Homo sapiens: one gene and its partners. The protein of the gene in region 1 interacts with the protein of each later gene in a biochemical or structural test. Each region holds a gene or a part of one and is shown on either strand. Other genes may lie near its edges. The genes, in order: PRC1, CENPE and KIF23.

Region 1 (11,083 bases):
CACTCCAGCCTGGGCAACAATAGCAAAACTCCATCTCAAGAGAAAAAAAAAAAACACGCAAAGTGTCCTGCACAGGAATATTTTTCTCCTGGCCTCAGAATACAACTTGCCATAGCCTTAACTCTGGGCTGCCACAGCAGGGAGCCCAGTTATACCAGTCATAGAAAGCAGTGGTGCCCAAGAGCATGGCACTCACGTCTCTGTCTATAAACTGGTGCTGTGATCCCGTGGGGACTGTGGAACTGGAGAGGCTCTATGGGTTGCCGTTGGGGCCTAAGATCTGTGCTGTCTCTTCTGCTGCTGCATTTGACTCCTTAGGCTACAGGTTCATTTTCCTGACGACAGCAGTCACAAACAGCGCTCGCCTTATGGAGGCCATGAGTGAGGTGAAAGCCTGATGTTTTTCCCGGCCAGTGTTGACATCTTCCCTGAACACATTCCTCAGTGAGATGCAGGCATCTGGCACCCAGCTGCTATAACCAAGTGTCCACCAACTACCTGCTAAGAGCCGGGAGCATGGAACGTGTTGGGATTTAGAGAACATTATCTGAGAAAAGAGTTCACTTCCTGCTCCCAGGATATTTCTCTTTTCTGTTTATGAAGTACAACCCATGCTGCTAAGATGCGAGCAGGAAGAGGCATCCTTTGCTAAATCCTGTTTGAATGTCATTGTAAATAAAGCCTCTGCTCTCAGATGTAATACGTTGGTCGTTCTGGACACGCACTTCCATCTTTATTAGTGAAAGCCCATTGGAGCTTGCTACAGGGGCTTCCTGTGCTTCTTGGCCTGGACTTTGTAGTGGCTCCAGGCCTGGTCTGGTTCTTCCCTGTAAAAATCACTCTACCACTCTGTACCTGAGTTTCCTCTACCATAAAATGAGGGAGATGGCTGAGGTGACCAGCAAGCACGTTTCCAGTTCTAAAATGTTGTGATTCATTACATTTTTGAGAAAATGACTTTGTTGTTTTAATTTAAGGAGGCACTTCAATTTTAAGCGTTTGTTTCTTATTGCAGAATGAAAGATTGTGTGCCATTAGAGCCATTTCAGGCATCAGCAAACAGTGCTCCTATAAATGTGCCAGCACCCTCCTCATTACTGATGCTAGTAGCCTTTCTCTCTCTCTTTACCTTTTAAAAATGATGAAATATAGGCCAGGTGCTGTGGCTCATGCCTGTAATCACTGCACTTTTGGAGGCCGAGGCAAGAGGAACGCTTGAACCCCGGAGTTTGAGACCAGCCTGGATAACATGGGAAGACCCCGTCTCTACAAAAAATAAAAAAATTAGCCGAGGGTGGTGGCACACACCTGTATTCCTAGCTACTGGGGAGGCTGAGGTGGGAGGATCCTTTGAGCCCAGGAGGTCGAGGCTGCAGTAAGCTGTGACCTTGTCTCAAAAAAAAAAAAAAAAAGAAGGAATTACAACCACCTATATTAGTGGCCTCTTTTCAGGCCTCTTCCAACTTGATCTCACTGATGACTATGCTTTCCTTGAAATTGTCTTATTCAGCTTCCATAATACCCTTTCTTTGTCCTCCCACAGTCTCTTAGGTTGTTCTTTGATTACTCCTCTCTGCTCATCCCATTTGCTGACATCTCCCCTCTCTCTGTCCTTTGTTGTCATCCACTTCCAGATCTCAAGCCTTCATCTCACTCCTTAGCGCCACACAAGTATTTCCTACCTGGTCATTCCACAGGCACTTCAAACTCAGCATGTACAAAATAAACTCATGAGTGGAAGCTCCTGTCCCTACTTGAATCCTTTAATCTGCTCTTCTTCCTGTATTCCCAAACTTTGTTCAAATGAGCAAAAAATTGTATTCTTGACCTCAGATTTTTTCTTTCTATGCCCCACCTTCAGCTGGTTCCCTTGTGCTATTGGTTCTTATTTCTAAATGTCTCTAGTTCATCTTCTCCTCACCATCCCTACGACAGAGGTCTTTATTGTCTCTTGCCTGGGTTTTTGCAAGAGTGTGCCTCCCAGCTGCTCATTCTTCCATCTGTTCCCCATTCCACAGTGCTGCCACTTACTAAAAGGAAGAAAGAAAATCAAAACCTGAGTTACTGGATCATCAAAAGTATTCTTCCTATAGAATAATGATCATTCTGGGCCCCGCACGGTGGCTCACACCTGTAATCCTAGCACTTTGGGAGGCCGAGGCAGGCAAATCACTTGAGGTCAGGAGTTTGAGACCAGCTTGGCCAGCATGGTGAAACTCTGTCTCTACTAAAATATAAAAATTAGCCAGCTGTGGAGGCGCGCACCTGTAGTCCCAGCTACTCATGAGGCTGAGGTGGGAGAATCGCTTGAACCCAGGAGGCAGAGGCTGCAGTGAACCGAGATCATGCCACTGGACTCCAGCCTGGGCAACAGAGCAAGACTCTGTCTCAAAAAATAAATAAATAAATAAGAATAATGATAATTCTGTATAAGAATATATTCCAAGGAAAAGGCATTCCTCAAGCATCTAGCTAGAATTTTGAGTGTTATGTCAAGCTAGTGTGCAAGACCAAAGACACTGCCAACAGGGCTGTTAATTCACAGAAAGAATAGGTGGCATCAGAAAAAGATTAAACAGTGGCAAAACATTGCACTTCCATCCAGTAGAAATATATGACCCTGTAATAGGATTTTTTTTTTTTTTTTTTTTTTTTTTTGAGAAAGGGTCTTGCTTTGTCGTCTAGGCTGGAGTGCAGTGGCGTGACCATGCCTCACTGCAGCCTTGACCTCCTGGGCTCAAGTGATCCTCCCACCTCAGCCTCCCAAGTAGCTGGAACTACAGGCTCATACCACCACACCTGGCTAATTTTTGTATTTTTTATAGAGACAGGGTTTTGCCACAGTGCCCAGGCTAAGGTCATATATTATAAACGCGTATTACACAGTGTTTTACATGCTGCGTTTATGCTCTGAATGGATATCTTTGCATCAGTTCTATGACTTTGTTAGCCTCAGCACCTCAGTGTAAAGGACAAGAGAGAAAAAATTGCCTTTTCTTTGGATACTTCATAATGCTGGTGCTAAGAACAAGTATGAAGATCACAAATTTGTGAAGCTTTCTGAAAAGCTCTCCTGTTAATTTAATCAACAAAGAATGCAAGTAAATTTTAAAAGTAGTGCTACCATCTACTCTATTAGTGGTGTCAATGTTAATCACAGAGTGCAAGGAAATTGAAAAAGTGGTGCCTGTCGCCCACTGTGTTGGTGCTGTGAATGTTTGGCATGCTGCTGACAAGTTAAAAAGAACATGGAAGCCGGGCGCGTTGGCTCACGCCTGTAATCCCAACACTTTGGGAGGCCGAGGCAGGCGGATCACCTGAGGTCAGGAGTTCAAGACCAGCCTGGCCAACATGGCAAAACCCCGTCTCTATTAAAAATACAAAAAAAAAAAGTATCCAGGCATGGTGGTGCGTGCCTGTAGTCCCAGCTACTCGGGAAGCTGAGGCACAAGAATTGCTTGAACCCAGGTAGCGGAGGTTGCAGTGAGCTGAGATTGGGCCACTGCACTACAGCCTGGGTGACAGAGCGAGACTCCGTCTCAATTAAAAAAAGTAAAAAGAACATTGAAAGCACTAATGAAGTTTTTCTGAAAATAAGAAAAATATGGTTCTGAAGGTGAAGCAAACAAGCATCCTTTACCTTTAGGGAAAAGGCATATGAAGAGGATTCACTTAAGTTACAGTTGGCCAATAAACACGAAAAATGTGCAATTTCAATTATAATCAAGTGCCAAACAAGGAAATGCCAGTATTATTATTTTACCTACAAAATGAGCAAAGATGTTTAGAAGTACAATAGAATTCAGCCCTGCTGAGGGTAACAAAAGGAGGGTACTTTTCCGGTGAGGCTTTGTGCAGAAGGCAAATTAATAAAGGGAGCATTCAGTAATTACACCTCTAGGAATCAGCCGTACGAAAATGCAGGATGCATTTATAAATACATACATACACAAAGATTTATGTATGAAGATATTCAGCCCAGCCTTATCTTTTAAATTATCATCTAAATATCAATAGCAGAATGGGCGAGATATCTACACACCAGGATTCATGCCACCATGCCACCATGAATCACTGGGAAAAAACGGTGATATATAAGCATTTAGGGATGTAACATGTTCATCGAGGAAAGGAGGCTACAAAAGTAATGTCTATTTTGAGTTTTAAATTTTTCATGTAACGATTTAGAAACTCATCTAATTTGATAACGTGACTTAGGCAAATCATTCAAATCTTTTTGCGTTTCCTCTGCAATGGCGATTGTGGAGGTTAAATGGGATAACTGGCGTTGAAACGTTCCAGGCCCATGAGCAGGACTCAATGTTCCTTCCCTTCCCCTTTAGTGTATGGCTTCTTACATCTGGGGAAGAGTCCCACCAAAGATCGATTCCAAGCTTCGCTTCTTGGATGAGCGAGGGAAACTAGGCGCTAACTTACCTATTCACCCCCGCGCCCGTTCCCGGCAGCCGGGACTCAGGGAAGCCAGGTAGCCGCGGTGCTCTCAACTCCCTCCCCGCCCGCGCACTTCGAATCCAAACTGCGCGGGGCGAGGCGGGGCGGCGCTCCGATGAGGTAGCTGGCTTGGGAGAGGAGTCCCTTGAGGCTGCCGCCAAGCCAGGGAAGCGGGAGGCGCAGGCCACGCCCGGCCACTCACAGACAGTGACGTCATCCCCCGCCGCCACTCCGGCGCTTCCCAGGCCCTGCTCGCGAGTCCCCACCCCGATTGCGCACCCGCGACTTCAGCCCGAGGGGCGGGGATTTTCTTGGAGCGACGGGACGCGACGCCAATCGCGACGAGGCTTCGCCCCGTGGCGCGGTTTGAAATTTTGCGGGGCTCAACGGCTCGCGGAGCGGCTACGCGGAGTGACATCGCCGGTGTTTGCGGGTGGTTGTTGCTCTCGGGGCCGTGTGGAGTAGGTCTGGACCTGGACTCACGGCTGCTTGGAGCGTCCGCCATGAGGAGAAGGTGCGGGTTGCGGGGAAATCGAGGGGACGCGGGAGGGAGCGACGCTCGTTTCGGCTGCGGGGCCTGTTCAGGGGTGCGGGACCCGTGCGGGGTCCCGGGCCTAGATCGTCACGGCAGTCGGCGCCGAGGGAGGCCGGGGGCGCTGAGGGGCAGGGTCTGGAGGCGGCGAGCCAGTGCGAGGGCCGCGGCGGTGAGACCTGACGCGCTGTCCGCCGGCGGCCGCAGGTGCCCGCAGGCTCAGACGCCCGGGTGGGAGCCGAGCGCCGGTGCCCGGACGCGGCAGGGTAGTCGAGGCCCGGGGCCCGGGGCGGCCTCCACCCAGGCGGTCAGCGCTGGCGCTCGGACCCCACCCTCCCCGCCCGCAGCGTCTCAGGTGCCGCTGCTTGGCGCAGATGACTCGTTGTAAACCTTCTGTGGTCGTGGCTTTTCTTTAAAGCTGTTAAGTTTATTTATCGTTGTTTTTCTTTGTTTTATTCTTTTTTTTTATTTTTGTGGAAACGCGGTCTATGTTGGCCAGGCTGGTCTCGAACTCCTGGCTTCAAGTAATCCTGCCACCTCGGCCTCCCAAAGTGTTGGGATTACAGGCGTGAGCCACCGTGCCCGGCCCGTTGTTTTTCTTTATATCTGGCCAGCGGTGTTAACGTTTTGTTTGAATTGGAAAGATAGCTTTGTTTCTTTGCAAGTTAAGAAACGGATTATGGAATTCTTTTCCGGTCGTTTTAATAACTTCCTAGGCGGTGTTGGGGAGGGACTGTCCGACTTGAAATCGGGACCAGACGGTGACACTGCCACTTACCAACCTTGTGACTTCCAAATATTAACTTTATTTTCTAAAAGTTGTGGATGCAGTTTTCTGATGATACAGCGTTAAATAATGTGTAGTTTTTGGTGGAACTGATTGTTCTAAGGCTTTGTAAGATTCTTCATTTCATGATCACTAATTCTGATCAGTCTTTTTAAAATGCTTGCCCTCAGAATAATGAGAATTGAGTGCCAACATGGTAAAACCTTGTCTTAACTAAAAATACAAAAATTATCTGGCCCTGGTGGCGCGCCTGTACCCCCAGCTTTTCAGGAGGCTGAGGCAGGAGAATCGCTTCAGCCTAGGAGGCAGAGGTTGCATGAGCCGACATCTCGACACTGCACTCCAGCCTAGGCGACAGAGTGAGACTACGTCTCAAAAAAAAAAAAAAAAGTCCATTAACAGTTTATGAATTATGTAGGCATCTCCTCTATCAAGGGATTGAATGAAGCAGGAGAAAACTTACCCTTTAATGTTGGTTCCAGGCTAATGGATATAATTAACTTTTTTTTTTTTTTTTTTTTTTTTTTTTTTGAGACGGGGTCTCACTCTGTCGCCCAGGCTGGAGTGTAGTGGCGAGATTGCTCACTGCAGCTTTGACCTCTGAGGCTCAAACGAAACTCTGGCCAGAATTAATTATGGTTATCGATCCCCGAAACAGGTTGAACTGGAGATCAACAAAGCTCCTTCTCTGGAATGCTAAGAAAAAATAGGGCAGTGGATCAGTGAAGGCTGCCTGAAGGTAGAAAATAATTTAAGGACCACTGTGAGATACCTTCCAGTCCAGTGATTTATGTTCAAGACTGGAAAAACTGACTCATTTTACAACCTTTTTGTCCTTGAGTGGTAGTCTTTGTATGCACTCTTGATTTTTTTCAGTGAATCTAAAAAAAAAACTCAGACTTGCTGCTTTTAGGGGATTATCTGAAACAATTTAGCCAGGGAGTATTTAAGTGTATCATGATAATTGTTCATAATGATTGCTCTGAAGCATCTTAAGATCATACAACTTTTTTGAAATGTCACGTTATTCATTCAAAAAGACTTCTTGGGCCTGGCACAGTGGCTCACACCTGTAATCCCAGCACTTTGGGAGGCCAAGGTGGGAGGATGACTTGAGCCCAGGAGTTCAAGACCAGCCTGGGCAACATAGCAAGACCCTGTCTCTATTTAAAAAATAATAATTTATACTAAAAAAGAAAAGAAAAATACTTCTTGAATGTTTGTTATATACAAGGAACCATTGCAAGTGTTGGGGATATAGCAGTGAGCAAAAGTGACATCCCTGCCCTCACAGAGTTTATATTCTAATAGCAAAAGAGGAGTGTAATAAATAAGTTAGTCTTAAATGGTGGTAAGTGCTATGTAGAGAAATCAAGAGGTTAAGAAGTACTGAAGGTGTAGGAAGGGGGGTTGTGGTTTTAAAGAGATGGGTCAGGAAAGGCCTCCCTGAGAAGGTGATCTCTGAGCAAAGACCTAAGAAGGAAAAGGGTGAAGCCATGCAGCATGGGGGAAAAGAGATCTAGGTAGAGGAATCAGCAAATCCAAGTGCCCTAAGGGGAGATAGCGCCTGGTATGTTCCAGAAAGAGCAAGGAGGTCGCTGTGACAGGAATAGAATGAGCACTGAGGTCAAAAGAAATGGCTTTCAGATGGAATGGGGCTCCATAGGTCTTTGGAAAGTCAGAGGCTTTTCCTTAGAGTGAGATGGCAAGTCGTTGGAGGGTTCTGAGTAGAAGATTAGGACTTGGGGCTCCTGTGTTGACAATGGACTTAAGGAGGCCAGCTTCGAAGCCGGGAGACCAGTTAAGAGGCCCCTGCCATACAGCAAGAAGTTGGTGGTGGTGACCTGGACCAGGGTGGGGGTGGTAGTGGTAGCAGCAGAGGTCAGGAGGAGTGAGATTCTGCCTGTCTTGTGTAGATAATGCTAATGGCGGGCATATAAGAAAGAAGTGTCAAGGATGATACAAGATTTAAGTTTAAAAAAAAAATTAAGTTCAGTACAATTTGAATGTTAGGAAGAGTGAGAAATGTTAGTTTTTAATTTGAAAATGATCCTCTTACAGGAAGTGTCTCTAACTAGAATAATAATAATGGGTGTTTGGTAATTCCAAACACCCATTTCCAACAGGCCAAATAAAATACGTTATATATTAGTAAAATTTTTATTTCTTTTTTTTTTTGGAGACAGTCTTGCTCTGTTGCCCAGGCTGGAGTGCAATGGCATGATCTCAGCTCACTGCAACCTCCGCCTCCTGGGTTCACCGGGTTCAAGTGATTCTCCTGCCTCAGCCTCCTGAGTATCTGGGATTACAGGCACCCACTACCACGCCCAGCTAATTTTTGTATTTCTAGTAGAGATGGGGTTTCACCATGTTGGCCAGGCTGGTCTCGAGCTCCTGATCTCAGGTGATCCGCCCGCCTTGGCCTCCCAAAGTGCTGGGATTGCACACGAGCCACCGCGCCCGGCCATAGTAAAAATCTGTAAGTTTTTCAATTAAGTCACAAATCAAAAACATTTCAGATTATGGGCCGGGCACAGTGGCTCACGCCTGTAATCCCAGCACTTTGGGAGGCCGAGGCGGTCGGATCACGAGGTCAGGAGTTTGAGACCAGCCTGACCAACATGGTGAAACCCCGTCTCTACTAAAAATACAAAAATTAGCCGGGCGTGGTGCCGTGTGCCTGTAGTCCCAGCTACTCAGGAGGCTGAGGCAGGAGAATCGCTTGATCCCAGAAGGCAGAGGTTGCAGTGAGCTGAGATCACACCATTGCACTCCGGCCTGGGTGCCAGACTGAGACTCTGTCTCAAAAAAAGAAAAAAAAAAGAAACCAAAAATGTTTTAGATTATGTGCCAAGATGTTTTTAATAACAGCTTTGAGGTATAATCCACATACCATACAATGTACTTAAATTGTATATTATAATTCAGTGATTTTTAGAATATTCAGAGTTGTGCAATCATCACTGCAATCAATTTTAGAACATTTTTATCACCCCTTTAAAATCCCATTAGCAGTCAATCCCCTTTCACCCCATGGTCCAAATTCTCCCCAGCCGCAACTACAAATCTACTTTTCGGCTAGGCAAGGTGGCGCACACCTATAATTCCAGCACTTTGGGAGCCCAAGGTGGGAGGACTACTTGAGCCCAGGAGTTCAAGAACAGCTTGGGCAACATAGAGAGACTCTACCTCTTAAAAAAAAAAAAAAAATTATTTATTTATTTATTTATTTATTTTATTTTTTATTTTATTTTATTTTATTTTTTGAGATGGAGTCTCACTCTGTCACCCAGGCTGGAGTGCAGTGACGTGATCTCAGGTCACTGCAACCTCCACCTCCCGGATTCAAGCAATTCTCCTGCCTCAGCCTCCCGAGTAGCTGAGATTACAGGTGCCCACCACCACACCCAGCTAATTTTTGTATTTTTAGTAGAGACGGGGTTTCACCATATTGGCCAGGCTGGTCTCAAACTCCTGACCTCGTGATCCGCCGGTCTTGGCACCCAAAGTGCTGGGATTACAGGAGTGATCCACCGCACCCGGCCTAAAAAAAAATTTTATTGTTTAAGTTAGCTGGGTGTGGTGGCTCACATCTGTAGTCCCAGCTACTCCGGAGGCTCAGGTGGGAGGATCACCTGAGCCTAGGAAGTTGGGGCTGCAGTGAGCCATGATCATGTTACTGCACTCCAGCCTAGGTGAAAGAGGGAGACCCTGTCTCAAAAAACCATACAAACCCCAAATCTACTTTTTACCTATTCTGGATATTTCATAAAAACGGAACCGTAGCTCTGGTCTTTTGTGACTTGCTTCTTTGACTTAACATAATGTTTTCAAGGTTTATTGCCAAATAATATTCCATTGTATGCCTATATACTACATTTTATTTACCCATTCATAAGTTGATGGCCATTTGTATTTTTTTTTTCACTTTTTGGCTATTATAAGTAATGCTGCTATAAACAGTTGTGTAGTTTTTGTATAAATGTGTTTTCATTTCTTTTGGGCAAATACCCAGTAATAAAATTGCTGAGTTGTATGAACTCTGTTAAACTGAGGGGCCGGGTGCAGTGGCTCATGTCTGTTATCCCAACACTTTGGGAGGCCGAGGTGGGAGGATTGCTTGGGCCCAGGAGTTCAAGACCAGCCTGAGCAACATGGCAAACCTTAAAAAAAAAAAAAAAAAAAAAAATTAGCCAAGCACGATGGCACGTCTATGGTCCCAGCTACTTGGGAGACTAAGGTAGGAGAATTGCTTGAGCCCAGGGCGTTGAGGCTGCGTTGAGCTATGATCACACCACTGCACTCCAGCCCAGGTGACAGTGAGGCCCTGTCTCAAAAAACAAAAAATCAATTGAGGAACTACCAGACTATTTTCCAAAGAGGCTGTACCGTCTTGCATGCCCACAAGCAGTGTCTGAGGGTTCTAGTTCCTCTAGATTCTCACCAATACTTTTTGCTATATATTTTTTTTTATTATACCATCCTGTTGGCTATGAAGTGGTTTTGATTTGCATTTCCCTAATGACTAATATTGAGCATCTTTTCATGTGCTTATTGGCCATTTTTATATCTTCTTTGGAGAAATGTCTATTCAGATTCTTTGCCCATTGTGCTAGATTTTTTTACTCAGAAAAACGATCACTTTACCTTCTAGATGTGTTACAGAGATAGGCAGCCCTGCTTGTAAACCTTCGTCAGGATCCAGAGTGCATAATACCTCTATTAGGTTAGGTAGGTTAGGAGCATAGGACCCTTTGGGAGGAATTCAGGGCCATTCATTTTATATCTATTGAACAACTACTGTGAGTTAGGGTGTGGTAAAATGAAGATGAATAAGATGTGGTGGTCCTTGCCCTTGAGTTTATGGTCTACTAGGGGGCTTGGGGGGAATGGTGAGTGACAAGTCCACAGCTCTCCAGAGGAGGTGGTGGCATATAGACGGAACTGAATGTACAAAGCGCGGTGGCATCAGAAAATGAGAGTTGCATGTGGTTTATTGAGGGGCATTGTTCAGGAAATGCCCGGGAAGTTCAGCTGGCCAGAGACCTGGGGAGTGTCAAGTGGGAGAGATTAGCAGACAGACTCGGAGAGAGGTTTTAGAAGGCCTTTCTACAGAAGGTGGTTGAACTATTTCCTGAGGGCAGTGGAGCCTTTGAAGGGGAGTAGTTAAGCGGGGATCTGATGGGATTTATTATGAACAACTAGCTGTTATGTGGAGATTGGCTGGGCAGGGGTAGGTCTGTCAGACTGAGGAGACTGGGATACTTAAGTAATGACCTTCAGAGCAGTGCCCCTGGCTGGCCTGTCTGGAA
Region 2 (10,396 bases), on another chromosome or scaffold:
TGTAGTGTATTTTTTGTGTGTGAAAATGAACTCATTTTACCTTAGGGAAGGGTATTTTCAGAGAACCAAAAAGTTGAAAAAAATACTGTGTCTTAAATAGTTGATCATCCTACATTCTGACAGTTTTACTTTTGGGAATAATTACTAATTTGGAATGAAAACACAGTGGACTCATTTGATTTAACTTCTGTGTTGTTGTTGTTGTTGTTGTTGTTTAGATCGTGTCTTTCATGGTAATGAAACTACCAAAAATGTGTATGAAGAAATAGCAGCACCAATCATCGATTCTGCCATACAAGGCTACAATGGTTTGTATTCACTCAATGCTGCAGAAACATTTTAGTCTTGGGCGTCTGTGCAACAAGCATGCATAGTTTTACCCATTATAGGTTTGTTTTTAATCTTTGCGTATGTGTGTTTTGTTTTTTGCAGGTACTATATTTGCCTATGGACAGACTGCTTCAGGAAAAACATATACCATGATGGGTTCAGAAGATCATTTGGGAGTTATACCCAGGGCAATTCATGACATTTTCCAAAAAATTAAGAAGGTAAGTAACTTAACTGGATTTCTAGTACGTACAGGTAAAACTAGTAAAAACTGGGTACCAGTCTTAGTGTATTTCTCTTGTAAAGATGAAAGGAAGTAGATTTACAGTTATTGTTTGATTATCCATGGGGAAAGAAGAAAGGCATAGCATAGATTCACTTTTATCTCCACAACTTACTTTATAAAGCTTAAAGTTCTTTTATTCTTTCTCTTGAATTCTGCAACAATAATACTCTCAACAAAAAGTAGGCATTAAGGAACAAGAAAATGTTATCAGAATGGTTAGCTCCACCTAACCATTTAACTATCAGTGATTATAAAGGAACAGTAGAAAGTGGATGTAGGTAAAAAAAGAAGGGAAGCAGAAAGCCAGAATAGGCAACCGAGTTAGTTGGTTTCAAATTAGCATTTTTATTAAAATAAGAACATCTTTTGAGAGGGTTTTATTTTGAGCCTAGAGTTTGAGCCTAGAGTTGGTGTTCTCCCAGCTTTATGGTACTTCACTTTTCATTATTTCTGTAACGATGCTTTTATATTTTTGTGTTCATTATTTTGTCAACAGTAGAACCAAGGGGTTTCTTAGTTTGTTTTACATACATTTTACCTCTTTAAGCACATGAGCATTTAGCATTAGGTTTTCACAATTGGATGCTTCCTGGTGTTTTTATATAATTTTTTTTCTTCTAGTTTCCTGATAGGGAATTTCTCTTACGTGTATCTTACATGGAAATATACAATGAAACCATTACAGATTTACTCTGTGGCACTCAAAAAATGAAACCTTTAATTATTCGAGAAGATGTCAATGTGAGTAGCAGACTTAAGGGAGCTTTAAAATTGACTGACTTATTGAGATTATTGTTCTTGAATGTTTACCTTTAATTTCTATAGTTTTTAAAGTGTCTCCTATTTCTATAGTATGTGAGGGTTTTTTTGAAGTATTTATATTCATCTTTTAAACAATATGAATAGTTTTAAAATACTGACAGCTCTAATATTTTGGTTTAAGTGTAAAAATAGCAAGTTGGAAGTATCAGGTTAGAATTTGTTGTGCTTTGGTATGTGAAATAAATTGTGGGTATTCATAGAATTATTTGTTACATTCCTACAGAATTATGGTTCCATTTGCCACTTTTAACTTTCACAAATGAATTCTATAATAGTTTGCACCTTCTTTTGAAAAGCAAACTTGTGACTTCTATTTCTCTAATCTTTCCATAATTAAACTTGTTTCAGAGGAATGTGTATGTTGCTGATCTCACAGAAGAAGTTGTATATACATCAGAAATGGCTTTGAAATGGATTACAAAGGGAGAAAGTAAGACTTTATGCTGTATTTCTTTAGAACACTTGTAAAAACTATCTTTTCAATCAAGCACGTTTGGACCTCAAATCATACTTTTTTAAGTTAAAATAAAAATTATTGTGTTTCTATGGATTTTATTATATATGCAGCTGAAATATAACTCATTTTTACAGAGAGCAGGCATTATGGAGAAACAAAAATGAATCAAAGAAGCAGTCGTTCTCATACCATCTTTAGGATGGTAGGTAATTCTATCTATCTGTTAGATCTTTCCAAGTAAGAATGCACTAATTTTTCTACAGCTTGCCTTTTCTATCTAGATTTTGGAAAGCAGAGAGAAGGGTGAACCTTCTAATTGTGAAGGATCTGTTAAGGTATCCCATTTGGTGAGTATTAATGAACCATAATAATGTACTGTATGGGCCAAAACAAAATTTAATTTAGTTGCTGGATGTTTGGTTTAATAAGAACTGTTAACTAAACTAAATGTGGGAGGAAATCTACAAATTGTCTGCTTAGTCTTGTCAGTATCATCAAATTCCTAGCTAAAATGTCGTAGGAAAAATTCAGAGGATCTTTCTTCCTGTTATGTCATGGTTGCCATCTCCTAAAATTTAAATGTCAGGGCTATAGGGTTATAGGAATTGATGTTTTTTCTAACCACTAATGCAGTAGAATTTTTTTCTATACACATTTAACACTTTAGATCATCTTAGAATTTGAGGGTCTTTTTGTAAAATCTCAGCCAATGTAATTTAGACTTATGTGATCAACAAAAATCTAGGTTGGATGGTTAAAAAGTAATCACATTACTTTAGGTTTTACTTAAGTACAACAATAAAATATATTTTGTATTGTAAACGTAGTACTTTAGACTGTAAATCCATTGAGGAGTGATACTGCATTCATCCTGGTAGCCCCAACACATTATACCTATTTTATGTCTAATATAGATTTGCTGAATAAGCGAATATATGCATTATGCAAACATTCCTATATTCCACATTAGTAAACCTTCACTTCCTTCTTTCCACACTAAATTATTGCTGTTTCTTTCTTGCTCCTTTTCTATCTTTTACCATATTGCTTTATTCTGCATTTTTAGGGCCTAAATTCTTTAGCTTGATGTGGGATATGATTTAAGATTATTTGATTAGAAAACTTCAGGGAAAAAAGCAATCTATAATATGTTTATTCATTTTCAGATTTTATAAAATTAGATTATTAATTACTTAATATTCAATCCTAATTTCACCTTAGCTATTTTGCTATAAAATTGTATAACTTATTTTAGTAGACTTTAATCTTGTTTTAATTTAACAATAAAAAACCAAACCCTAACCTCTTTAGTTTTCTCATCCAAGACTGTGATATTTCATATAATTTTAACTTTTAATAATTTAGCTTTAATACTCTTGGCATATTCAGTGATCTACTTGATGATTTTCCTCATGTTACGTGATGCTCTGTCATTTGTGTTCCATCTGTTCCAACCCTCCAGCCTACCCACTTACTCTAAGAATCTTCTTGGAAAGAAGTCTCTAAAGAGTCATCTCTGTCTCTTTAGAGGTGGCTCTTTTCTGATTATCTCCTGGCCTTGGTGGGATGATAATATCCAGTTTCTCTTAGCTGTACTCCTCTGTTTTCTACCCTGGCTTCTTTTTCCCTACCCTCCTAAAAAAATAATTAAAAAAAAAAAAACTTGGAGGTATTCTGTGACGTTTCTTACTCAAGTTCTTGCTCTCAAATGTTCTGTCATCATTTCCATGTTGATGACTGCCAAATATTTTACCTATAGTCTCTGAATTCTAATTCATGTCTTCCTAAAGATGGTTATAATTGTGTCCCATCATTATCTCAAACTTTAATATGTCTAAAACGAAACTATTTTCTTCCTACCATAGTGAATATTCCTTATTTCCAGTAAAACCAGCATTATCCTAGCTGCCTAAGCTGGAAACCTAAGTCAATTTTGACTCATCTTTTTCTGCCTTTCTCTTTGTCCACTTGTCCCATTTCTTACTGATCCTACCTTTAAACATTTCCATGGGTGCTACACTCATTTACTTTCTCATCTCTCTTGAATTACTATGTCAGTCTCCTGGAACCTTGTCTCCATGACCCTTGTCTTTGTTTCTTGAAGTCATCATAAGGATTTCGAATATACTAACCATTGCTTTTGTATATCACTTCCTGGGGCAAGATTTGGCCACTCTTAACCAATCTAACTTTATTTCCTTCTGCTCTACATGAACTCCTCCCTCATAGATTGGGCCTCTGAGTATCTTTGAATATGAATGCTTGTTCTCATCTTTAACCTTCACTCATGCTGCCTTCATTACCACTTTGCCCTTTTATTATGTATCTGTGTCATCTGTAGTGGACACTGTGCAAGAAAAATTAGCCTCCTTAACTGGTAATACATATTTACCTGCCTAGTCTCAAAAATCTCCACAGAGAGAAATAACGTAAAGCTTTGACTTTCTTTCAAATCACTCACAATATTTACTAAGTTGTTATTGTCTTCTGAGCATGGTGTTGGGCTCTGAGATTAAAAAAACAATAAACAAGACACCCCTTCACTGCTTCTCTTACAAGCAGTCTCCTCTGCCACCTCCCTAACCCAAGCTGGTATTATCTCTCACCGAGATTCCTGCCCCAGCTGCCTGATGGGGCTGCCTGCAGCTGCTCTTGCCCCTTCCCAATCCATCCTCCACCCAGTAGTCATAGTGGATCCATTGTGAGAGTCATTGCTGAGCTTTATGCAAGGTTCTCTTTTTTTTTCCAGTTTTACGTTTTTTTATTTTTATTTATTTTTTTATTATACTTTAAGTTTTAGGGTACATGTGCACAACATGCACGTTTGTTACATATGTATACATGTGCCATGTTGGTATACTGCACCCATTAACTCGTCATTTACATTAGGTATATCTCCTAATGCTATCCCCCCCTCCCCCCACCCCACAACAGGCCCCGGTGTGTGATGTTCCCCTTCCTGTGTCCACGTGTTCTCATTGTTCAGTTCCAACCTATGAGTGAGAACATGCGGTGTTTGGTTTTTTGTCCTTGCGATAGTTTGCTGAGAATGATGGTTTCCAGCTTCATCCATGTCCCTACAAAGGACATGAACTCATCATTTTTTATGGCTGCATAGAATTTCATGGTGTATATGTGCCACATTTTCTTAATCCAGTCTACCATTGTTGGACATTTGGGTTGGTTCCAAGTCTTTGCTATTGTGAATAGTGCTACAATAAATATACGTGTGCATGTGTCTTTATAGCAGCATGATTTTATAATCCTTTGGGTATATACCCAGTAATGGGATGGCTGGGTCAAATGGTATTTCTAGTTCTAGATCCCTGAGGAATCACCACACTGTCTTCCACAATGGCTGAAGTAGTTTACAGTCCCACCAACAGTGTAAAAGTGTTCCTATTTCTCCACATCCTCTCCAGCACCTGTTGTTCCCTGACTTTTTAACGATTGCCATTCTAACTGGTGTGAGATGGTATCTCATTGTGGTTTTGATTTGCATTTCTCTGATGGCCAGTGATGATGAGCATTTTTTCGTGTGTCTTTTGGCTGCATAAATGTCTTCTTTTGAGAAGTGTCTGTTCATATCCTTCGCCCACTTGTCGATGTGGTTGTTTGTTTTTTTTTTTTCTAAATTTGTTTGAGTTCTTTATATATTCTGGATATTAGCCCTTTGTCAGATGAGTAGATTGCAAAAATTTTCTCCCTTTCTATAGGTTGCCTGTTCACTCTGATGGTAGTTTCTTTTGCTGTACAGAAGCTCTTTAGTTTACTTAGATCCCATTTTGTCAATTTTGGCTTTTGTTGTCATTGCTTTTGGTGTTTTAGACATGAAGTCCTTGCCCATGCCTATGTCCTGAATGGTATTGCCTAGGTTTTCTTCTAGGGTTTTTATGGTTTTAGGTCTCACATTTAAGTCTTTAATCCATCTTGAATTAATTTTTGTATAAGGTGTAAGGAAGGGATCTGGTTTCAGCTTTCTACATATGGCTAGCCAGTTTTCCCAGCACCATTTATTAAATAGGCAATCCTTTCTCCATTTCTTGTTTTTATCAGGTTTGTCAAAGATCAGATAGTTGTAGATATGTGGCATTATTTCTGAGGGCTCTGTTCCTTTCCATTGGTCTATATCTCTGTTTTGGTACTAGTACCATGCTGTTTTGGTTACTGTAGCCTTGTAGTATAGTTTGAAGTCAGGTAGCATGATGCCTCCAGCTTTGCTCTTTTGGCTTAGGATTGACTTGGCAATGCGGGCTCTTTTTTGGTTCCATATGAACCTTAAAGTAGTTTTTTCCAGTTCTGTGAAGAAAAGTCATTGGTAGCTGATGGGGATGGCAATGAATCTATAAATTACCTTGGGCAGTATGGCCATTTTCACGATATTGATTCTTCCTACCCATGAGCATGGAATGTTCTTCCATTTGTTTGTATCCTCTTTTATTTCCTTGAGCAGTGGTTTGTAGTTCTCCTTGAAGAGGTCCTTCACATCCCTTATAAGTTGGATTCCTAGGTATTTTATTCTCTTTGAAGCAATTGTGAATGGGAATTCACTCATGATTTGTCTCTCTGTTTGTCTGTTATTGGTGTATAAGAATGCTTGTGATTTTTGCACATTGATTTTGTATCCTGAGACTTTGCTGAAGTTGCTTATCAGCCTAAGGAGATTTTGGGCTGAGACGATGGGGTTTTCTAGATACACAATCATGTCATCTGCAAACAGGGACAATTTGACTTCCTCTTTTCCTAATTGAATACCCTTTATTTCCTCCTCCTGCCTGATTGCTCTGGCCAGAACTTCCAACACTATGTTGAATAGGAGTGGTGAGAGAGGGCATCCTTGTCTTGTGCCAGTTTTTAAAGGGAATGCTTCGAGTTTTTGCCCATTCAGTATGATATTGCCTGTGGGTTTGTCATAGATAGCTGTTATTATTTTGAGATACGTCCCATCAATACCTAACTTATTGAGAGTTTTTAGCATGAAGTGTTGTTGAATTTTGTTAAAGGCCTTTTCTGCATCTATTGAGATAATCATGTGGTTTTTGTCTTTGGTTCTGTTTATAGGCTGGATTACGTTTATTGATTTTTGTATGTTAAACCAGCCTTGCATCCCAGAGATGAAGCCCACTTGATCATGGTGGATAAGCTTTTTGATGTGCTGCTGGATTCTGTTTGCCAGTATTTTATTGAGGATTTTTGTATCGATGTTCATCAGGGGTATTGGTCTGAAATTCTCTTTTGTTGTTGTGTCTCTGCCAGGCTTTGGTTTCAGGATGATGCTGGCCTCATAAAATGAGTTAGGGAGGATTCCCTTGTTTTGTATTGATTAGAATAGTTTCAGAAGGAATGGTACCAGCTCCTCCTAGTACCTCTGGTAGAATTCGGCTGTGAATCCATCTGGTCCTGGGCTTCTTTTGGTTGGTAGGCTGTTAATTATTGCCTCAATTTCAGAGCCTGTTTTGGTCTATTCAGAGATTCACTTCTTCCTGATTTAGTCTTGGGAGGGTGTATGTGTCCAGCAATTTATCCATTTCTTCTAGATTTTCTAGTTTATTTGCATAGAGGTGTTTATAGTATTCTCTGATGGTAGTTTGTATTTCTGTGGGATCGGTGATGATATCCCCTTTATCATTTTTTATTGGGTCTATTTGATTCTTCTCTCTTTTCTTCTTTATTAGTCTTGCTAGCGGTCTATCAATTTTGTTGGTCTTTTCAAAAAACCAGCTCCTGGATTCATTGATTTTTTGAAGGGTTTTTTGTGTCTCTGTCTCCTTCAGTTCTGCTCTGATCTTAGTTATTGCTTGCCGTCTGCTAGCTTTTGAATGTGTTTGATCTTGCTTTTCTAGTTCTTTTAATTGTGATGTTAGGGTGTCAATTTTAGATCTTTCCTGCTTTCTCTTGTGGGCGTTTAGTGCTATAAGTTTCCCTCTACACACTGCTTTAAATGTGTCCCAGAGATTCTGGTATGTTGTGTCTTTGTTCTCATTGGTTTCAAAGAACATCTTTATTTCTGCCTTCATTTTGTTATGTACCCAGTAGTCATTCAGGAGCAGGTTGTTCAGTTTCCATGCAGTTGAGCGGTTTTGAGTGAGTTTCTTAATCCTGAGTTCTAGTTTGATTGCACTGTGGTCTGAGAGACAGTTTGTTATCATTTCTGTTCTTTTACATTTGCTGAGGAGTGCTTTACTTCCAACTATGTGGTCAATTTTGGAATAAGTGTGATGTGCTGAGAAGAATGTATATTCTGTTGATTTGGGGTGGAGAGTTCTATAGATGTCTATTAGGTCTGCTTGGTGCAGAGCTGAGTTCAATTCCTGGATATCTTTGTTAACTTTCTGTCTCGTTGATCTGTCTAACGTTGACAGTGGGGTGTTAAAGTCTCCCATTATTATTGTGTGGGAGTCTAAGTCTCTTTGTAGGTCTCTGAGGACTTGCTTTATGAATCTGGGTGCTCCTGTATTGGGTGCATATATATTTAGGATAGTTAGCTCTTCTTGTTGAATTGATCCCTTTACCATTATGTAATGGCCTTCTTTGTCTCTTTTGATCTTTGTTGGTTTAAAGTCTGTTTTATCAGAGACTAGGATTGCAACCCCTGCCTTTTTTTGTTTTCCATTTGCTTGGTAGATCTTCCTCCATCCCTTTATTTTGAGCCTATGTGTGTCTCTGCACATGAGATGGGTTTCCTGAATACAGCACACTGATGGGTCTTGACTATCCAATTTGCCAGTCTGTGTCTTTTCATTGGAGCATTTAGCCTATTTACATTTAAAGTTAATATTGTTATGTGTGAATTTGATCCTGTCATTATGATGTTAGCTGATTATTTTGCTTGTTAGTTGATGCAGTTTCTTCCTAGCCTCAATGGTCTTTACAATTTGGCATGTTTTTGCAGTGGCTATTACCGGTTGTTCCTTTCCATGTTTAGTGCTTCCTTCAGGAGCTCTTGTAAGGCAGGCCTGGTGGTGACAAAATCTCTCAGCATTTGCTTGTCTGTAAAGTATTTTATTTCTCCTTCACTTATGAAGCTTAGTTTGGCTGGATATGAAATTCTGGGTTGAATATTCTTTTCTTTAAGAATGTTGAATATTGGCCCCCACTCTCTTCTGGCTTGTAGAGTTTCTGCTGAGAGATCAGCTGTTAGTCTGATGGGCTTCCCTTTGTGGGTAGCCTGACCTTTCTCTCTGGCTGCCCTTAACATTTTTTCCTTCATTTCAACTTTGGTGAATCTGACAATTATGTGTCTTGGAGTTGCTCTTCTTGAGGAGTATCTTTGTGGCATTCTCTGTATTTCCTGAATTTGATAAAACGTAATGAACAAACCTCCAAGAAATATGGGACTATGTGAAAAGACCAAATCTACGTCTGATTGGTGTGCCTGAAAGTGACAGGGAGAATGGAACAAAGTAGGAAAACACTCTGCAGGATATTATCCAGGAGAACTTCCCCAATCTAGCAAGGCAGGGTTCTATTACTCCCTTGCATAAAGCCCTGCAATGGCTTCTCATTGAATATAAACATTTCAGAGTTTTAGATCTCACTTAAAAAGTCCTGCATAATCTGGCCCCTGTCTACTTCTCTTATTCTGTCTTTTCCTGTCTTCACTTCACCAACTGTGCCACACTGCCTTTTCTATTTTTTTGAACACACTGAGCACATTCTGCTTTGTGACTAAGTGTTTTGGCTATTCTTTTTGTCTAGACTACTGTTTCCCTTGATCTTTTTGGGACCAGCTTCCTCTTCTCAGGTCATTCAGATCGCAGCTTAATGACAAGCCTTCCACTGCTATCCAGTCCTATGAACCTAAAGCTACTGGCCCCTTTTCCAGCTCTATTTAAATAATCTCTGTTACACTTATCACAACATGTTTCTTATTTGTCTTTTTATCTCTTCTTACCAGCCTCCTCCTCTATGTAGAATGTAAGCTCCATGAGAGCAGAGACCTTATTTATTTGTAGCCCTAGCACCTGATGTACTTCCTGGAGCATAATAAGCAGCCACTTCTTTTCAGTAATATTTGTGAAATGAAAGAGAGGTCCAGCTCTTAAAGATGCCACAGTAAAGTCATGGTATTGCTACAGCATAGTACAGCTAGCATGCATGACTAGCCCAACAAAATAAGTGCTATAAATGTAAGTCGTATCTATAAGTCATGTTTATAAAGATTTCTGGTTATGCAGTTCAAGGAGCAGTTCATCTGAAATCTGGCGGGGAGGAAGGATAAAGTAGGCAAAGCTATGCTGAGGAGATAATCTTTGTGCCTGGTTCTTGAATAAAGAATAAGGACAGAATAGAACATTAGAACTAACTGAATAAAGGAAATAGCAAAAAGCTGGTGCTTGGAGGTGTAGAAGTACATGGGGTGTTTGGGGAATAGTGAGTAGTTCAGCTAGAGGTAAGAATAAGGGATGGATAAATACAAAGTTGGAGCAGTGCAAGTGCCAGCTTATAAAGAATTATATTTGCCATAGTAAGTTTTTGGACCTTGTATAGGAAACAGAACC
Region 3 (10,366 bases), about 22 Mb from region 1:
TGGCACAATGCCTGGCTAATTTTTGCATTTTTAGTAGAGACAGGGTTTCATCATGTTGGCCAGGCTGGTCTCGAATTCCCGACCTCAAGTGATAGACCTGCCTCAGCTTCCCAACATGCTGGGATTACAGGCATGAGCCACCTCACCCAGCCCATGATACATTTTATCTGCTCAATCCTAGAATGTACAGAATGTTGTTTCAGAATTACCAACTAATGTCTGTGCCTACTAATTAGAATTCAAAACGTTTCAAGTTTTTTTTTTTTGTCTTGACCCTGAGGGCAAGCTTGATTCTAAATAGTCACAGTTACCTGGGTTATTTCCCCCTTTCTGTGTATGTTATTTATTTGAAATATAGTTCAAGTCATTTGTTTCTTTTTGTGTAAATTTTACAGTCCCCCAACTCCCCAACACACACACACACACACACACACACACACACACACACATCCCCAGGTTGATTTTATTAATTTGTGTTTTCTGTATGTAAACATTAACATCTAACCATTCATGTTACAAATGGCCTGGCGAGAGAGATTCATGGCCTGGGAACCTGAGACAATGTTTCTAAGGCCACTGAGTGACCAGCAGGGCCTGGGAGGGAACAGTGTGCGGAGCATGTCCAAGATCCCAAGGCAGTGCTGTCTCCATTTTACCACCTCCCCTCAAACACTCGGGGCTTCAGCAGTTTCTGGTCATTGGTGTTTACTGGGTTCCCACAGCTGGACTTGCTTATCTGGGTGTTTGGATTAATATATGATTTCGAATTTGTGTAGTGTCAGCCCCTCTTCAATGATTTGGATAAGACTCGCCTGGTCCAATTTAACAGTTTCTAATAAAGTTAAACTTACCGTAAGACCCACAATCCCACCCAAGAGAAATAAAAACACACCTACATAAAGACTTTTACACAAATAATTATACCAGTTTCATAATCTCCAGAAAGTAGAAACAACCTAAATGTCCAACTGGTGAATGAATAAATTGTCCTGCATTCATACAGTGGAATAGACTCAGCAACAAAAAGGGAACAAATTACTGGTACATGCAACACATTGATGAATATCAAAGCATTATGCTGAGTGAAAGAAAAGACATTCTGGAAAAGGCAAAAGTATAGGGAAGAAAATCAGAAAAGTCGTTGCCAAGGCCTGGGAGTAGGGGCAGCCCAGAGAATTTTCCACTGTGATGGAAATATACGTTTGATTGTGGTTACAGCACACTATATATTTGTCAAATACACATAACGATACAACTAAAAAGGGTCCATTTTACTGTATGTAAATTATACCTAAAATACTTGACTTTAGAAAGAAAAAAGCCCCTCAGTTCTCTTCTCCCCACCCTCCTACGCGCACTCCTGATCTGGATCTCTAATTCTATGGTAAAATGCAAATCTTTTAATGGCTATAGGTAGCCCTTTGCTATTTTTGAATAGAAAAATGATGTAATTATTTGGTAGTTTTAAGGAAATTAATAAGCCAGAGAACTTTAATACAGAAGTGAGGGAGGAAGAAGAAACTGGCCTGAAGAGAAGCTGGAGGTGGTGCGATGTAACTGGGTCCTCAACTGGAGCGTTCTTTGAAGGGATGATTCATTCATCCCTTCAAGCCATGTATGGGGCACCTGCACTGCTAGGCACTGGGCATGCAACGATGCCATCTAGTGAGGCTGTGGGGATAAGCCAGTAGAGGAGACAGGAATGAACAGTGACTGCCAATTGGAATGTGAGTGCTGAAACAAGTCAACAGGTGCAGTGAGTGGGAAAGGGCAGTTTTGGGGGCGTGGGGGCTGTACCACGGGGCCCAGTATCCACAGCAGGGTAGCTGGCAGATCTGCAGAGAACTGAAGGCAAGGCATTGTCAGAGGAAAGGAGGGAGGAGAGCGTGACAGCACAGAGAATGGCGTGTGAGCCCAGCGTGTTCAGGGCACTGCAGTTCAACATGACTAGAGGGGACAGGGGGCAGTGATGGGTGATGAGCCCCAGAGGAAGCGTCTCAGGGCCCTGTGGTGGGTCTCCAACAATGGGGAACCACTGCAGAGTTTCATATAGGTATGTGACATAATCAGATCCATGATTTAGAGATGAGCAAAATGGAAACTGAATTGGAAAGTGGCAGCAGAGAGGCCTGTTAGGAGACTGCTGTCTTTATCAGACAAGAGAAGATGGTGGCTGAGGAGACAGAGAAAAGTGGAGCAGTTTGGAGGTTTGGCTACTTAGTAGGTAGAACTGTTAAGATTTAGTGATTGAATATTGAGACAGAAGAAGAGAGAAAAGCTAACAATGTTGCTTTAGACTCTGGCTTGGTGGATGCCATCCACTGAGAGGGAGCAAGTTTGGGAGAAGAGATTAGAATGTGTTAGATGTGAGATGCTTGTGGGATATCGAAGTGGAGAATCCAGAAGACAGCTGGATATATGGCTCTGGAGCTCAGAAGAGCAAACATGAATGGGATGTGAAGCCATATGAGTGCTTGAGAGTGCCTAGGGAAAAGGCACACCTAGTGACCAGCTCTAAACCCTGAGCCCCAACATTTAAGGGAGAAAAAAAGAACTCACAAAGGAGACTGAGAAAGAAGGGCTAGACAGCTAGGAGAAAAAATAAAGGCATGGGAAGAAAGGAATGGGCAACATTTTTTAGTGTTGTTAAGAAGCCAAGTAAGACAAAAGTCAAATAGATTTAGCATCAAGGAAGTGGTAATTTTGGTGACAAGAGTTCCAATGGAGTCTGAGGTAGAAGCTAAACTGAAGAGCAACTAGGATATAAGTAGTCAGCAACCAAGCCCAATTCCTAAATGATAAAAATTCCAAACTCTAGGCCAGGTGCGGTGGCTCACACTTGTAATCCTAGCACTTTGGGAGGCTGAGGCAGGTGGATCACTTGAGGTCAGAAGTTCAAGACCAGCCTGGCTGAGGCAGGAGAATTGCTTGAACCCCGGAGGCGGAAGCTGCAGTGAGCCGAGATTGCGCCACTGCACTCCAGCCTGCGTGACAGACTCCGTCTCAAAAAACAAAACAAAACAAACAAACCAACAAAATACCAAACTCTAGCTTGACAACAAAGTCCTAATCATTCAAAGACTTCAACATAGGAAGCAAAGCAATAAAAGCACTAGGAAACAAAAAATGAGAAATAAAATAAAAAACTCAGAATGGATGTATTTTTCCAGTATGACACAAAACAGAAGCCATAAAAGAAAAGACGGATTAATCTGTCTACCTGAAATTTTTTCCAAGCTGTCACAAAACATATACAAATAAAAATAACCAAAATGTGAAAAATAAAAGTATTTAAACTCGTATTTTGGATGAGGACCAATTTTTTTTTAATATAAGAACTTTCACAGATCATTAAGAAAAACGAACAACCAATAGAACAAAGAGGCAAAGAATATGAACACAGTTGATAGAGAAGGAATCAAAAGGGCTCTAAAATATATGAATAGACAACATTTATCTGAAAATAAATGAAAAATTTAACTACATGTTTTTTCTCACCAATTGATATGAGATATCAATAGATTGGTAGCTACTGAAAAGTTTGATAACACTTTGAGAATTGTGGAGAAATAGGCACTCTCATACAGGCTGGTGGGAGTGTACATTTGGACAGCTTTTATGGAGAATGATTTGCAATATCTGTGAAATGTTACACATATGTATACTCTTTGACTCAGCAATTCTGTTTCTAGAAATGTTTCCTACATATTTACCTGCATTGTATAAATTTCCACATTCATTCACTATAGCTGTATCTGTAATAGGAAAAGTTGGAACCATCCTAATGTGCAATGTAGGGGTGGAAAAGGTGTGATACTTTTCTTTACCCATCTTAAGGGTCACAGCTGACACTACCATAACAAAAAACAGGTTAGCAAGATAAATGGATAACTTATTGAATCACAGTTTTATGGGATGTAAGTGCCTTCAGAAATGAAGACCCAAAGACCCAGGGAAAGCTGTCCATTTTTATGCTTAGATGAGATGAAGAATGGACAGCTGTGTAGAAATGTGATTGTACAAAAGGAGTATGATCTAATAGTAACAGACTGAAGGAGGAATCCAGCAAGTCCTGTCTGTTCAGATTCTTCTTGGCCTCTCTGTGCAGCTTTCCTTCTTCCTGAGTGTAGGGCAAGACCCTTTTGGAACGAGGGTCTTATGACAAGGTACATCAAAGAATGTCTTTATGGCCAGCTCTTACACAAAAAGGTGGGGGAAGGCTAGATTAATATTTCTAGGTTTTTCTAGAATAATGTTTCTGGCTTGCTTGGGAGAAAAGGGGTTCTAGTTTCCATGACCCGCCTTGGGGAACAGAAATTCTGGTTTCTATTATTTGCTTTAGGAGACACAGAGGGGTGGGAGACAAGAGGGCAGGAGAAAGTCAGAGACAGACTTTGCTTTTAAGGCTTCTCTGAGGCACTTTCAGTCTTCTTTAGTTCAAAGCACTCAGTGTGCCAAAGAGCCATACTCTGGGGTGTCGTTTCCTGAGCACCAACAATATTGGCCAAGGACATTGTGACTATCCTTACCAGTGCTGTGGTCCTTTAGGAAGTTGAGAAGGGGCTAGAGTTCCATGAGAGCCCAGGTGTAGATGTGTATTTGGTAGTCATCGGCTTAGGGTCAAAGACAGAAGTGATATAGAATCAGTTCATCTAAGGCAAGAGTAGGTTCAAAAGGTTGCCCCTTAAGGGTAAGGACCAAATTTTATTCATCTCCGTAAGGCCAGGATCAAACACAATCAAGATTTGATAAAACAGGCCGGGCGCAGTGGCTCACGCCTGTAATCCCAGCACTTTGGGAGGCCAAGGTAGGCAGATCACCTTAAGTCAGGAGTTCTAGACCACCCTGGCCAATATGGTGAAACCTCATCTCTACTAAAAATACAAAAATTAGCTGGGCGTGGTGGTGCGCGCCTGTAATCCCAGCTACTCGGGAGGCTGAGGCAAGAGAATTGCTTGAACCTAGGAGGTGGAGGTTGCAGTGAGCTGAAGACTGCAGTCCAGGCTGGGCGACAGAGCAACTCCACCTCAAAAAATAAAAAAGGAAAAAAAAAAGATTTGATAAAATAATGTACATATAGGACAGAGCTGGAGGGAAACCCAGGAAAGGTGAATCAGAGAGAGAAAAGACGCCAAGATAATGTGGTGACTTGGGAGCCAGAGAGACGGAGCCTGAGACTTGGAGCAGGGCACAGCACAGGAATACAACACTTTTCACCAGAACGACATTCCGACCTCTGAATCAACCCTGGAAAGGCCCTTCCATTGAACTTCTTGTGATGGAGGAAAAGAAACCCTCAGTTTCGTCATCGCAAGGCGGAAGAGTTTAAATACCATACCTCAAGATCTCCCTCCAGCCCTGACACGCGACTCCGCGGCCCTTTCAGCGTCGGTCGCCTAGGAGACAAGCGCCACTTCCGGCAGCGAAGTCACTTCCGCGGAGGTCCTGCCTCTCCCTGCGGACGGGCGCTGATTGGCCCGTTTGAAATGCGCCAGGCGGGAGCTCACCTGGGCTCTTAGCGTCGCCGCCGGCTTCGCAGAGCACCGCGCCTTAGCCGCGAAGTTCTAGTTCTTGCTGCCGGTCCTAACGTCCCGCAGTCTTCGCCAGCCAGCCGTCCCGCATGCGCGTTTGGGCGGCGTGGAGCCTGCTGCCATGAAGTCAGCGTGAGTACGAGGCCGCCGAGCAGGGAGAGAGGGCGGACGGGGGCCGAGGCCTCGGGGCTGGGGGCAGGCGTCTCCACTCAGGCCGCGGCCGTACGCGGGCAGCGCGGACAGCATCCCGCCCGGTGCTGCTGCGGCCGCGACCCCAAAGTGGGAACCTCCACGTGTGGCCGCTCCGCGGGAGCCTGGGCGCGGAGACCCCTGCCGCGTCGCCCCCCGCCGCCCCGCCTGGGCCTCCAAGGGGCCAGGAAGGGTCGGCCCGGAGCCGGGGTTGTTTTACGCCGCACCCGGTTCCCGGGGGCGGGGCAGTCCTCCTCGGGGTCCCGGGACAGCCTTTCCCTTCTCCCTCGCTGGCTGCCGCCGCCTCCAGAGTGCAGTTGGCCAACTTAGTGCGGGTCGGAGGTGGTCTCGTGTGTGGAGCAGAGCGAGTGTGCTGGGCATTGGTTAGATGGGCTCCGTTTCTGGAGAGCCCTGGCACCGGTGATCGCCGCTAGCTTTTTTTTCAGCCGAGCACCCTGTCCTTGAGGCCGAGCCCATCCGCTTACACAGGCCAGTTACTTCTGCTGTATTTTGTGGCCGCAGAGAACCTCCGCCCACATTCCTAAGCTAATATTTTCGGCGCAGCATCATTCCTGGGTAAAGAAATATTTGTCGTGCAAAGGAGAGGATTGGCTTTATTACCATTTAGGGAGTCGTTTGCAAAAGACAACTTGTTTATTAAGAGGCCGAAGTCAAAATCTTTAGATGAAAAAAATTATATATAAGAAATATACGTTGAGTTTAACTTAAGCCCACCACAAAGTATTTTGCACTGAATAACACGAATTTGCTTGTGTTTCATCTGAGAATATGTTTGGAAAAATATTTTTAAACTACAGTCGAAGCCAATAATCTTACTTAATTTTAATGTGTTAAATGTATATCTAGCCTATAGATAAATGTGAAGGGAAAAAGATGAGATGCTAGAGAAATGGTGAAATCAATCAAAATAACTTTTTGATTGCCCCTACTTAAGAAACCAAGAAATTGGCAGTTTGGGACCAGATTTTGTTTGGAGACAAAGAGTAATGTTTTGAGCATTCAATGACTGGTTGTTCCTTGAAAGTACAGGCGTAACCCTTGACGAAAGAATGGTTTCCTCCATGTGCATTTTTATAGTGTATTGAAGTTAATCGCTTGTCAGTCTGTAAAGTGTGGGCAGTTATAATTTGTAGTGCCTCTGTTAAATTGTTGCTCAAGAAAATATGCAAGCCATTTTAAGTATAGAACTAATCAGAGAATAAGTAGGTAGCTTTGGTACCAAAAATGTATTCTAAAGCAAATTTTAATTACTTTTGGATTACGCATGCCACAAACACTCTGCTACTATGATTATTAATGTTATTTGGGATGCAGTGTTTTGCAACTGCTAAGGGATAATTTACAGATAACCTAGAAAGATTGTATAAGTTTTAGGTGAGGCTTTTGTATTCGTGTTGAACTGAAAAAAAAGTTATTATTATTTTTTAATCTATGACCAGGAGAGCTAAGACACCCCGGAAACCTACCGTGAAAAAAGGGTCCCAAACGAACCTTAAAGACCCAGTTGGGGTAAGGTATCCCTGTAAATTTATGTGTGGTGTTTAAGAAACTTATCTCTTCAGTCCTTTCTGTCTTATGTGTATGCTTGGAAGGGAAAGAAGAAGACATGTGGAAGTATAATCAAAGAACATTTAGTTAAATGGATGTACTACATTGTGTAAAACTAGTGCTAGCTGTGAAATTTTCTCTATAAGATTAATTAAATTAGTCCAGTAAAATGAAGTCTTTGGTTGTCAACTGCATACCTTCTGTAATTATAATTTGGAGAGTTAGATAATTAAAAATCTCCAACTGGGTTCATATTCATCCCAGAGAATATGAACTGAGTTCATGCCATACAGTAACTGATGGCATGAGGAGAGTTCCAAACTTCTTGGGACCAAGTTTAATTCAGTTAAATTATGAAGAAAAAATGAAGCAGGCAAAAAGAATAAGAATTTTAAAACAAAACAACAAATGGCAAACAAAAAGGGTTCTTTGCTCTGAGGTATTTTAAATCTATCCCTCGTTGCCACTGGAGTGGGTCCCTGGCTCTGAGTTAAGGGAACCGGGTGCTTTGCACACAGCTGAATGAGTTTTCCTCAAGCCCCCTCCCCTGCTTTCAAAAATGTCTCTGTAGGCTGGGTGCGGTGGCTCACATCTGTAATCCCAGCACTTTGGGAGGCTGAGGCGGGTGGATCACCTGAGGTCAGGAGTTCGAGACCAGCCTGGCCAACATGGCGAAACCCTGTCTCTACTAAAATTACAAAAATTAGCTGGGTGTGGTGGTGGGTGCCTGTAATCCCAGCTACTCGGGAGGCTGAGGCAGGAGAATTGCTTGAACCCAGGAGGTTGCAGTGAGCTGAGATCATGCCATTGCACTCCAGCCTGGGTGACAAGAGAGAAACTCTGTCTCTAAATAAATAAATAAATAAAAATGTCTTTGTATATTAAATGTTGGGTTAAGCTGACAAGTTTTTAAATTGACATCCATTTCCAAGAAATTCTAACAGTTTTAAAAATCTCGTGTGACATGTTGTTGACTTTTAGAGATATTAGTAGTAGTATAACTATTATTTGTGTACAATATAATAGTGAATACACTGCAATTTGATTTTTATTAAAATTTATTTTAATTTTGTGTGTATTTAAAGTATTCTCATATCTAATACATACTTGTATTTGTCAATCTCAAGTAGCAGATTTTAATTTTCTTAGCCCTTGGAGATACAGAGCTCTTAAATTGAGAGACTGAATGTTTGTTGAATGAATGAATGAATGAGAAGCTTAAGTGAAAAATCAGGCAAAAGGTCGAACTTTCTTCTTAAAGCACCTTCCTATTTCTTCAGGTATACTGTAGGGTGCGCCCACTGGGCTTTCCTGATCAAGAGTGTTGCATAGAAGTGATCAATAATACAACTGTTCAGCTTCATACTCCTGAGGGCTACAGACTCAACCGAAATGGAGACTATAAGGAGGTAATTCTGATTTGGACCAAGTTGTTTTTACTCAATATGTTGTTTCCTGAATGACTTCTAGATTTTTAGATGTAACAAAGTTCATTTGTGAGCCCACATTTTCAAAAGACTTATTTACTTCATTATAACCACTGTATCTAAAGTGTTTTTGACTTCTGGGATGCACAGACATACCTTTGGTATGCTGGGGTTAGAGGATTGCTTTTAGCAGATAATTTCTTACACTGAGTATTATTGTTTCTTAGAGCATGTGTTAGGGATGATTTAATGTGGAATGATACATGATTGTGCTAGGCAGTTTTATATATACAACTTGATGTGTGGAAATGAAAATAACATTTAATAATAGACATTGTTTACTTGCATCAACCTCCTATGCAGTGTTTTTATTTTTAGTAAAGTTTTGAGTCAGCTCAAAAATATTGTTTAGCAAATGTGCTAAGCTAATAGTTGGAGGGTGGAAGGAGATTAAAAAAAAGAGCATGACATACTCCTTGCCTTTAGAAAGTTTATAACTTAAGATATATGGTAAACAAATAATTCTCATATAAATAAGACAGAAAGTTAGATGTGCTAAAGATGAGGGGACCGTGGGAATGCAGTAGGATTAATTCAGGCTACCATTTCTACTTCTAGCTGTCACTCACTCTTTTGTGCCTACTATTCCTGTGAAATTGCTCTTCAGAAGACTACCAGTGGCCTCTTTGCTGCTAAATTTGATGTATACCTCTTCATCCTCATTTTAACCTGTTTGTCAGCAGCACTCTCCTGTCTCCCCCTCCAGCTCTCCTTGTATCTCCAGCTGAAACCTTTTCTCTGGCTCTCAACATTCAACCACTTACTTGATATCTCTGCTTGGATGTCACATGTGCATCTCAAATTTTACATGCCCAAAAAGGAGTTCTTGATTTTTCTTATTCCCTCTCTAAATACTTCCTCCCTTGTTTTCTTCTCAAGGAATGGCACTATCGTGTGTCCAGTTGCTCAAGCCAGAAACCTGGTACCTACCTTTTACTTGCCTCTCCTTATAACTAGTTCATTAGTAGCTCCTATCAGTTATATTCCAACATGTGTCTTGAAACTGTCCTTTCATTTCCATCTCCACTGCCACCACCCTAGTCTGAGCCCCATTATTAATCACTGAGACCAGAGCTACTGTAATGAAGGAGTAGCTTTTTTATTTTTAATGCGTCACAGCTGAGACTTTTGTACAACTTGTGCTAGATGGAACTGCCCGTGTGAGTTAGACAATAGGGAACTAGTTCATAATCTCTTCATAGAGATGAGCCTATTGAATACATGCTGAAATACTGATAATTGAGCAGTGCCAGATGGAGGCTCATGCCTGCAGTCTCAGCACTTTGGGAGGCCAAGGTGGGTGGATCACCTGAGGTCAGGAGTTCAAGACCAGCCTGACCAATATGATGAAACCCTGTCTCTACTAAAAATACAAAAATTAGCCGGGCATGATGACGTGTGCCTGTAATCCCAGCTACTCAGTAGCCTGAGACAGGAGAATCACTTGAACCCAGGAGGCGGAGGTTGCAGTGAGCCGAGATCGCGCCATTGCACTCCAGCTTGGGCAACAAGAGTGAAACTCCATCTCAAAAAACAAACAAACAAAGAAACAAACAAACAAAAAACAACTTTCTAAACATTTAAGTAGTC

What was found.
Region 2: the proteins of PRC1 (region 1) and CENPE form a complex in vitro, tested with the Homo sapiens proteins (one study listed by BioGRID).
Region 3: the proteins of PRC1 (region 1) and KIF23 form a complex in vitro, tested with the Homo sapiens proteins (one study listed by BioGRID).

What each region holds. Positions count from the first base shown.
Region 1 is NC_000015.10:90,988,290-90,999,372, reverse strand, and holds the start of PRC1 (protein regulator of cytokinesis 1), read left to right. Parts: upstream 1-4,837; 5' UTR 4,838-4,955; coding exon 4,956-4,966; intron 4,967-10,748; exon of another isoform or gene 10,749-11,083. Other genes in the region: VPS33B (vacuolar protein sorting-associated protein 33B), read left to right, coding at 319-398. UniProt on the Homo sapiens protein: Key regulator of cytokinesis that cross-links antiparrallel microtubules at an average distance of 35 nM. Essential for controlling the spatiotemporal formation of the midzone and successful cytokinesis.
Region 2 is NC_000004.12:103,186,075-103,196,470, reverse strand, and holds part of CENPE (centromere-associated protein E isoform 1 precursor), read left to right. Parts: intron 1-218; coding exon 219-308; intron 309-432; coding exon 433-551; intron 552-1,237; coding exon 1,238-1,357; intron 1,358-1,786; coding exon 1,787-1,868; intron 1,869-2,029; coding exon 2,030-2,097; intron 2,098-2,176; coding exon 2,177-2,242; intron 2,243-10,396. UniProt on the Homo sapiens protein: Microtubule plus-end-directed kinetochore motor which plays an important role in chromosome congression, microtubule-kinetochore conjugation and spindle assembly checkpoint activation.
Region 3 is NC_000015.10:69,408,814-69,419,179, forward strand, and holds the start of KIF23 (kinesin-like protein KIF23), read left to right. Parts: upstream 1-5,535; 5' UTR 5,536-5,652; coding exon 5,653-5,663; exon of another isoform or gene 5,664-6,296; intron 6,297-7,180; coding exon 7,181-7,250; intron 7,251-8,569; coding exon 8,570-8,698; intron 8,699-10,366.